2 linked regions of the Homo sapiens genome follow. The protein of the gene in region 1 purifies or fractionates together with the protein of each later gene. This does not show direct contact. Each region holds a gene or a part of one and is shown in the gene's direction. Other genes may lie near its edges.

Region 1 (4,414 bases):
ACCAATAAAAATAATAACTTAAAAATGAGGTTTATAAGATATGTAGAAGTAAAAATGAATAACAATAGTCCAAGAGCTAGCAGTGAAGTGAAAGTATACTGTTGTAAGTTTCTTATACTTTGTTAAATACTATAACATCACTTGATGGCGGATTGTGGTAAGTTTAAAATGTATACTATAAACCCTAAAGCAACCTAAGATAACACAACAGTTATAGTTAAGCCAGTAAAGGAGATAAAAAGTACTCAATCAAAATAAGGCAGAAAAAGATAATAAAGGACAAATGAGACAAACAAAAAACAAATAACAAGATGGTTTATGTATATGTAATCCCAGCCATATCAATAATCACACTAGATATGGGTGGTCTAAGCACCCTAATTGAATGCCAAAGATTGTCAGATTGAATGAAAAAGCATGACCCAACTATATGCTGCCTACAAGAATCCTTCTTTATATGTAAAGACACAAACATGTTAAAAGTAAAAGGAAGGAAAAAGATACATCAGGCTAACACTAATGAAAAACAAAGCAGGGTAGCTATATTAACATTAGGCAAAGTAGAGTTTGGAGAAAAGAATATTACAGTGATAAAGAGGGTGATTTCATGAAGCTGAAGGGAAAAATACATCAGGAAGACATAACAAAGCTTAACATTTATGCACTTAAAAACACAGCTTTGAAATACACAAACCAAAACCTGATAGAACTACAGGAAGAAATAGAAAAGTTCACAACCATAGTCAGAGATTTCAATACCTCCTTCCTAATAATTGATAAATAAGTATACAATCAGTAAGTCTACAGAAGACTTGAATAACACTATCAACAAACCTGGCTTAATTGACAGTTAGAGAACATTCTACCCCAAAACAGCAGAATATATGTTCTTTTCAATTATACATGAAACATTTACCAGGAGAGACTATATTCTAGTACATAAAAAATATTTCAATAAATTTAAAAGTATTCAAGTCAATTCAAGAACAGAGTATGCTCTCTGACCAGAGGGGGAATAATTAGAAATAAATAACAGAAAGATATCAGAAAATCCTTGAATAAGCCAGGCACAGTTCGCACACACCTGTTGTCTTAGCTACTTGGAGGGCTAAGGCAGGAGAATTGCTTGAGGCCAGGAGTTTGAGGCCAGCCTGGGCAAAATAACAAGACTCTGTCTCCTAAATTAAAAATTAAAAAAAGAAAAGAAAATCCCCAAATATTTAGAAACTAAAGAATATTACATAACCCTAATTAAAATACAGAAAATAAATAATCCATGATTCAAAGAAGAAAGCAGAGTGAAATTACAAAGTATTTTGAACTGAATAAAGGTGAAAATGGAACAGCAAAATTGTGGGATGTAGCTAAGGAAAATTTATAGCATCAAATGCTTACGTTAGAAAAGAAGATCATTTGCAAATCAGTGATCCCAACATCCAACTTAAGAAACTAGAAAAAGAAGAGCAAATTAAACCCAAAGTAAGAGCCCAGTAGGCAGAGGTTGCAGTGAGCCGAGATCAAGCCATTGCACTCCAGCCTGGGCAACAGAGTGAGACTCCGACTCACAAAAAAAAAAAAAAAAGAGAAAAAGGTTCTTCAGAATTAGAATAGTCTGATGCACTTCAAACACTTTGAAAGAAATGCACTTCAAACATTTTAAGTCGTGTGTATTAAAAATAATGATTTAGAAAACAGTAATGTTAAGAAGAGGTCCTTATGTTAGCTGACTTCATGGATAGAATATATTTTAATTAACAGTGATTACTTCAGTGATTGCTTCTTTATTTCTTAAAAAGTAGTTTGATCTTAAGAAATTTCAATTATTTCCTAGAAATCTATTCATAGGAAAACATGAAATCAAATTTCAGGCCAATGTCCATCTAAAATTCAAATAATTTAGAATCTAAATTATCACACTTAAGTAGGGTGAGTTAATAAAATATGTTTATTTTCTTCCTTCTGACAATCTCAAAATGTATTAGAAATCTTCTCTTTGCAATTGCAAATGCAGATCTAAAATTTATCTTCCCTTTAGCCATAAGGGCCTAAATGATATTGAGGAAACAGGTTATCAGCTGCATACTGTTGATATTTGTGGAGATTTTAACATAAGCCTCTTAAAATAATGCTATTTTCCTGATCATATATTGAACATTATCTAATCAATCAATTTTCAATCATATGTATGTATAATTTAGGAAAGCATTTTCTAAAATCACATTTGATTTGTTTCTCTAAAGTTATATATAATTTACTATGTGAATTTTTTTAAACCTACACCAAAGGAGGAATGGATTTTTTTCAATTGATAAACCCTATTCAAATCTGTGTGTTTGATGTCAGGATTATTTGGCTAGAATCAACAACAATGTCACTTCAAACTTCAGCTCTAACATTTCTACATGTGGAACTATTTGATTCACTTAACACCTGTTAAAAAAATTCTTAAGTGCCAGATCCTGTGAGGTACTGTGATGATTATAAGGATGAAAAAGACATGTTCCCAATTCTCAGTGTATGGTCTAGTAGAAAATTTTATGGCGTGTATTCAACACTTGTCAGTATGAATCTTAAAAAATTTATCAAAGTTTTTTAATTCTTAAGACTAAAGTTAGCAAGTCTCTGCATTTGTCTTTATAGCACTTTATCCAGTTTTTTGGGAGTGATTTTGGAGTTTGGAAATAAACTTTTGAAGGATTCACATGAGTAAAAGTCCTTAGTAGGCTGCTGTCATGGAAGATTACAATGAAAATTATTTGTTTAGACTGAAAAAGGAAAACATTTGTGTTAATTCTGTGCGTGTGTGTGTATTGGGGTTTGCATTCACCCTATTAAAACTGAGCTTCTAGATGCCTTATGTAGAACCTTCAAAAATGGTTATGTATATGTCTTCCCTGCAGGATCAGCCTCCAACTTCAGCTTTTTCCGGTGGATGAGGTCTCTCTTGCTCCCCTCCTGCAGGTCTGTGCCAATTTGGAGCCAGTACCAGAATGGATGAGTGTCCAGAGTCCTGGGAGGTGCCAAGGGTGTCCCATTCCTGGCTGGGCTTGGGCCTGGATTGTGGCATGGGAACCTAACAACTGGGCACCTCCGGGAGACTCAGATGTTGCTCCTGCGTGCACTCCACCACACTCGGCCCCCAGATTCGGCTCATCAGAAGCTTCCTCTAGGCTCATGTCCTCTTCCCTTCTTATCCTCAGTCATCAAGAACAGAGGCTTTATTTAGAATCTGGTTGCTGGGGTGATAAGTCACTACTCTCAGTGAGTTTACAGTCTAAGACACATTCACATCAATGCATAATCACACACAAGATTAAAGCCCAAGGGAAATGTAACGCCAGGAAGCACATTCTTCCATCTGAGTCAGAGGTAGTTGACATGACTGGGTTGGGGACAGTGCAGAGGCCAAGTATAGAAATAAAGTGGAGATCCTGGAGGATTTCTGTGGGACCTCTATGGTCAGATATACAGGAAAGGAGAAAAAAAACTTTCCTGAGAAATAGAAGCCTCATAGAGAGGGTATATTTCACATGTGCCCTAATCTCACTCCTTCTCCTCCACTCTTGCAGTATCACTGCTTCTTACCTTTTAAGGCCCTGGGATTCTGGGGAATTACACCCACCCTCTGTCCCCTTTCAATATCAGTGAGGAGCTAGAGCTGCAGGCTAGGAAAATCCAGGCAGAACCCAACCGAGTGTTCATTTGGTTGCATTTTGTTGGTTTGTTTTTGAGACTCTAGATGTCCGGGTTGTACTTGCTAATATTTCCACCCTGCATGTTCAGACATTGCTAGTGGATCATGGGATCCTTTCCCATTGATCCCAGATGTAACTTCATAATCCTTTTTTCTCCTCATTTTAAAAATTATGGTAAAATAGGGCTGGGCGTGGTGGCTTACGCCTGTAATCTCAGCACTTTGGGAGGCCAAGGTGGGCAGATCACCTGAGGTCAGGAGTTCAAGACCAGCCTGGCTAACATAGTGAAACCCCATCTCTACTAAAACTACAAAAATTAGTTGGGCATGGTGGCGTGCCTGTAATTCCAACTTCTAGGGAGGCTGAGGCAGGAGAATCGCTTGAACCCGAGAGGCAGAGGTTACTGTGAGCCGGGATCGTGCCACTGAACTCCAGTCTAGTTGACAAAGTGAGACTCCATCTCAAAAAAAAAAAAAAAAAAAGTGAAATACATGTAACGTGAGATGTACCATCTTAGCCATGTTTACGTGCAGTGTGCAGTTCAGTGGCATTAAGGACATTCACGTTGCTGTGCTATCATCACCATGCCCATTAAACACTCTGCATTCCCAAGAATCCTATTTAAGACAACTCTTCACAAATAATTGCCAATCTATTCAAGATGGCACAAGAAATAAAGCCTTCGTGCTGGAGCTTGGGATGACAAGAAGCAGCAGCAA
Region 2 (4,144 bases), about 110 Mb from region 1:
GCACCCTAGCAAAGAAAGCCACAATTTCCCACCGTGAATCCCAGAAACTAATGAATTAGCAGGACTCGTCACTGGTTTTAATTTTTGTAATGACCTCTCCCAGGTCATGCATAGAATGTTGAACCCCATCCCCTGCCCATGACAGCCCTGAACAGCAGCTGCCAGAAATAAGTAAGTCAACAGGGCTGTTTTCTTAAACCACCTCACTGGCAGAGTGAAGCACCGCCCTTCTCGTCCTGATTAACGAGGCAGCTCTGTTCCATCATGGCAGCCTCTGCTCCTTCCTCAGCGCAAGTGGACAGCACTGTGCCGTTGCCTAAATGCTGCTCAGATGTTAGTGGAGAACTAGTGCCCTCTGAATGTGCAGAAGTAAATTGCCGTTTCCCCTGCTGACAGGGACAGAAGACAGGCATTAGTGGGCCTAGCCCGTCTGCCGTGCCCCTGGATGCAAGGTCTGGAACAAATGCTGAAATTCTGACTTGAAGCTCCCTGTGATGCCGATGGCATCCTCTTCCATATGATATGTCCTTGGCTTTACCAATCCTGGCTGCATCTCAAAGCTTTGAGCCGCCCTGGGGCCCTGCTGGAAGACATGCAGGGGCAGGTGGCATTTGCAGCCCAGCCAGCCTGTGCAGGCCTGGTGGAATTTGGTGTGGTGGCCATCGGGCCTGGCCCACACCCTCTCGTCTCTCCCCTCTCTAGGCGAGTGCACCCCCACCCAGAGGGAAGTCATCCAGGCCTTGCACCCAGAGACCCTCATCAGCTGCCAGTCCCAGTTCAAGCCGGCCGTCTTTGATTTCCCATCTCAAGATGTGTTCACCGTGGAGCCACAGTTTGACACTGCTCTCGGTAATTGCGAGGATTTGAAAGTGAAAGGGACTTGGAGACAGTCTCTGTCTTCTGGGCATCTTGCGGCTTCCACGTGCCCAGCTCACCATGGCCGTCTGTCCAGAGGGCAGAGATTGTCAGGAGCCCAGCCTGGGGATTGACGCCAGGGGGACTTGGGAGGACTGCTGGTCACAGAGGGTATCCTAGCTTGGCCAAGGCCTTTATAGGGGATTCCCAGGAGGACTCCTGGAGGAGGTGACTTCTCACCTGGGCTTTGGAGGATGCATAGGAATCCCCTGGTTAGAGAAGCAGGGAGAAGAAATGACATCAGTGCACGGGCAGGAGAGGGGACAAGACAATACACCCTTGTCTTCGCAGGCCAGTACTTCTGCTCAATCACAATGCACAGGCTGACGGACAAGCAGCGGAAGCACCTGAGCATGAAGAAGACAGCTCTGGTGGTCAGTGCCTCCCTCTCCAGCAGCCACTTCTCCACAGAGCAGGTGGGGGCCGAGGTGCCCTTCAGCCCAGGTCTCTTCGCCGACCAGGCTGAAATCCTTTTGAGCAACCACTACACCAGTTCCGAGATCAGGGTCTTTGGTGCCCCGGAGGTTCTGGAGAACTTGGAGGTGAGTGGCATCTGCATGCCTCAGGCCAGGCCGGAGTCAGGGGCATCAGGAAGGCCCTGGAGGAAGAGGGAATGTGGTGTGGATGTCCTGGGCCAGCTCTCTTTAAAATTTATTTTTACAATTAGAATTTTTAAATTGAAGTACTCTTTTCTTTTTCCATAGCACTGTTGCTGTCTCTCAGGCTGCGTGATTGTATTAATTGTTCTGACCGCTGCTGGTCTTCCCCAGCTACAAGTTAAGCTTGTGGGGGCAGCAGTGAGAACCCCAGAAAAGGTGCCAGTGAGCGTGTGGTGCGTGGCATCGCAGAATTCAGTGCAGGAGCATCTGCCACAGAGCAGGGAGGAAAGCCCTAATCCCTGCTGGGACAAGTCCCCTCTCTCCAGGCCTCACTTCCCCCATGACTAAGTCACGGGGTGGGATTGGTGGGTGAATGATCCCTCAGGCCCAGAGCCTGGCAGGCTGGGAAGAGTTCGGGGGTGAGAGAACCAAGGAGTTCCTCGGCATTTCCGCCTGCTCCTCCTGCCTTGCTGCAGCCAGCGTGATCGCATGTTCTGCAGAGGCAGGGAATGCTCAGCATCGCTGATGAGGGAGGAGGGCCAGCCCGCTGGCGGCGTGAGCAGAGCTCGGGCTGCTACCTTGGAGAGCTGGTGCTTGGTGATACTTCATGTTGGTTTAGCCTTTTTTTTTTTTTTTGAGATGGAGTCTTGCTCTGTCGCCCAGGCTGGAGTGCAGTGGCGCAATCTGGGCTCACTGCAAGTTCTACCTCCCAGGTTCATGCCATTCTCCTACCTCAGCCTCCCAAGTAGCTGGGACTATAGGTGCCTGCCACCACACCTGGCTAATTTTTTTTTAGTAGAGACGGGGTTTCACCATGTTAGCCAGGATGGTCTCGATCTCCTGACCTTGTGATCTGCCCACTTTGGCCTCCCAAAGTTTTTTTTTTTTTTTTTTTGAGACGGAGTCTCGCTCTGTCGCCCAGGTTGGAGTGCAGTGGCACTATCTTGGCTCACTGCAATCTCCACCTCCCGGGTTCATGCCATTCTCCCACCCTTGCCTCCTGAGTAGCTGGGACTACAGGCGCCTGCCACCACATCCGGCTAATTTTTTGTTTTTTTAATAGAGACAGGGTCTCACCGTGTTAGCCAGGCTGGTCTCGATCTCCTGACCTCATGATCTGCCCGCCTCAGCCTCCCAAAGTGTTGAGATTACAGGCGTGAGCAACCGCGCCCAGCCTGGTTTAGCCTTTTTGTAAGCAGCAGTTGATTAGAATTAAATGAGCTTGAATTTGATTCTGACATTCATATTGATTTGTCCTTCCCTCAAAAAACACCCTGAGTATGGACAGGGCTTCCCGACTCTGCAGAGTACACGCCGTCCATGAGCAGTGCCCAGGTGTCATTACCTGCCCATGAGATGTGACCTGGGCAGGGGTCCCCACCTGTACCCTTGGGCCCCAGGAGGGAAGCCCAGCATGTCAGGCTGAAGCGGGGGTGCTTCCAGAGATGGCCATGCAGAGCAGCCCTCCCGCCTCGGGGTCCTGAGGCCCCGCTCAGTGGTCCCCCCACTCTGCAGAATGTGCACCCCCAGCTCTGATGTCTCTTCCAGGTGAAATCCGGGTCCCCGGCCGTGCTGGCATTCGCAAAGGAGAAGTCTTTTGGGTGGCCCAGCTTCATCACATACACGGTCGGCGTCTTGGACCCCGCGGCTGGCAGCCAAGGGCCTCTGTCCACTACCCTGACCTTCTCCAGCCCCGTGACCAACCAAGCCATTGCCATCCCAGTGACAGTGGCTTTTGTGGTGGATCGCCGTGGGCCCGGTCCTTGTGAGTCACGGAACGACATCATCTGGGACAGACCAGGATGGGGAGGGACAGGCAGGAGTGGTCCTGGCTATCAGTAGAAACCTGAGGTGTAAGAAATGGAGGAGTCAGAAATGCAGAATGTCCCTCAAAGTGATCGCTGCTCATTGGGGCCATGATGCAGGCTTTAGTTGCCCAGCTTTCCCATCTGTTCTCAACATGGCAGCCACAGGGGCTGTGCCCCTCTGCTCAGCAGCCTGCGCCAGGAGAAGAAGTGCCAGGGTACCAAGAACAGCTGTGGGCCCGGGCCTCCAGCAGGTGGCCTGGCCCTCTGAGACCACCATCCTTACATCTAAGAGGGACCTGTGGACTGCCCTGTAGACGTACAGTAGGGCAGGAACGTGATGGGATGCCACAGTGGGCCTGGTGGTTTTGGTAACTCATCTTCCCATTGATGGCAGATGGAGCCAGCCTCTTCCAGCACTTCCTGGATTCCTACCAGGTCATGTTCTTCACGCTCTTCGCCCTGTTGGCTGGGACAGCGGTCATGATCATAGGTGAGGAGGCTGCCTGTATCTCTGGGTCTGTTCCCCTGCCCCGACCTGCTCTAACCAACCCTGTGCTCTTGCAGCCTACCACACTGTCTGCACGCCCCGGGATCTTGCTGTGCCTGCAGCCCTCACGCCTCGAGCCAGCCCTGGACACAGCCCCCACTGTGAGTAGCCCCCCTGCAGGCACAACCAGGCAGAGCTGCTGAGAAAGAGAAGAGCCCTGGGGGAGGGGTCGAGGCTCCTGAACCCTAAGTCTCAACAGGCCCTTGCCTGGGCCAAAGGAGCCTGAGGCCCAGAGGACAGATGTGGGAGCCAGGAGGGTCGGGGCAGAGGGGCTG

Evidence for each region.
Region 2: the proteins of SLC12A8 (region 1) and NUP210 purify together in Homo sapiens (affinity purification with mass spectrometry; one large-scale study listed by BioGRID and IntAct). This does not show direct contact.

Annotation. Positions count from the first base shown.
Region 1 is NC_000003.12:125,086,857-125,091,270, reverse strand, and holds part of SLC12A8 (solute carrier family 12 member 8), read left to right. Parts: intron 1-2,900; coding exon 2,901-2,961; intron 2,962-4,414. UniProt on the Homo sapiens protein: Cation/chloride cotransporter that may play a role in the control of keratinocyte proliferation.
Region 2 is NC_000003.12:13,318,898-13,323,041, reverse strand, and holds part of NUP210 (nuclear pore membrane glycoprotein 210 precursor), read left to right. Parts: intron 1-702; coding exon 703-849; intron 850-1,206; coding exon 1,207-1,457; intron 1,458-3,062; coding exon 3,063-3,279; intron 3,280-3,716; coding exon 3,717-3,812; intron 3,813-3,886; coding exon 3,887-3,970; intron 3,971-4,144. UniProt on the Homo sapiens protein: Nucleoporin essential for nuclear pore assembly and fusion, nuclear pore spacing, as well as structural integrity.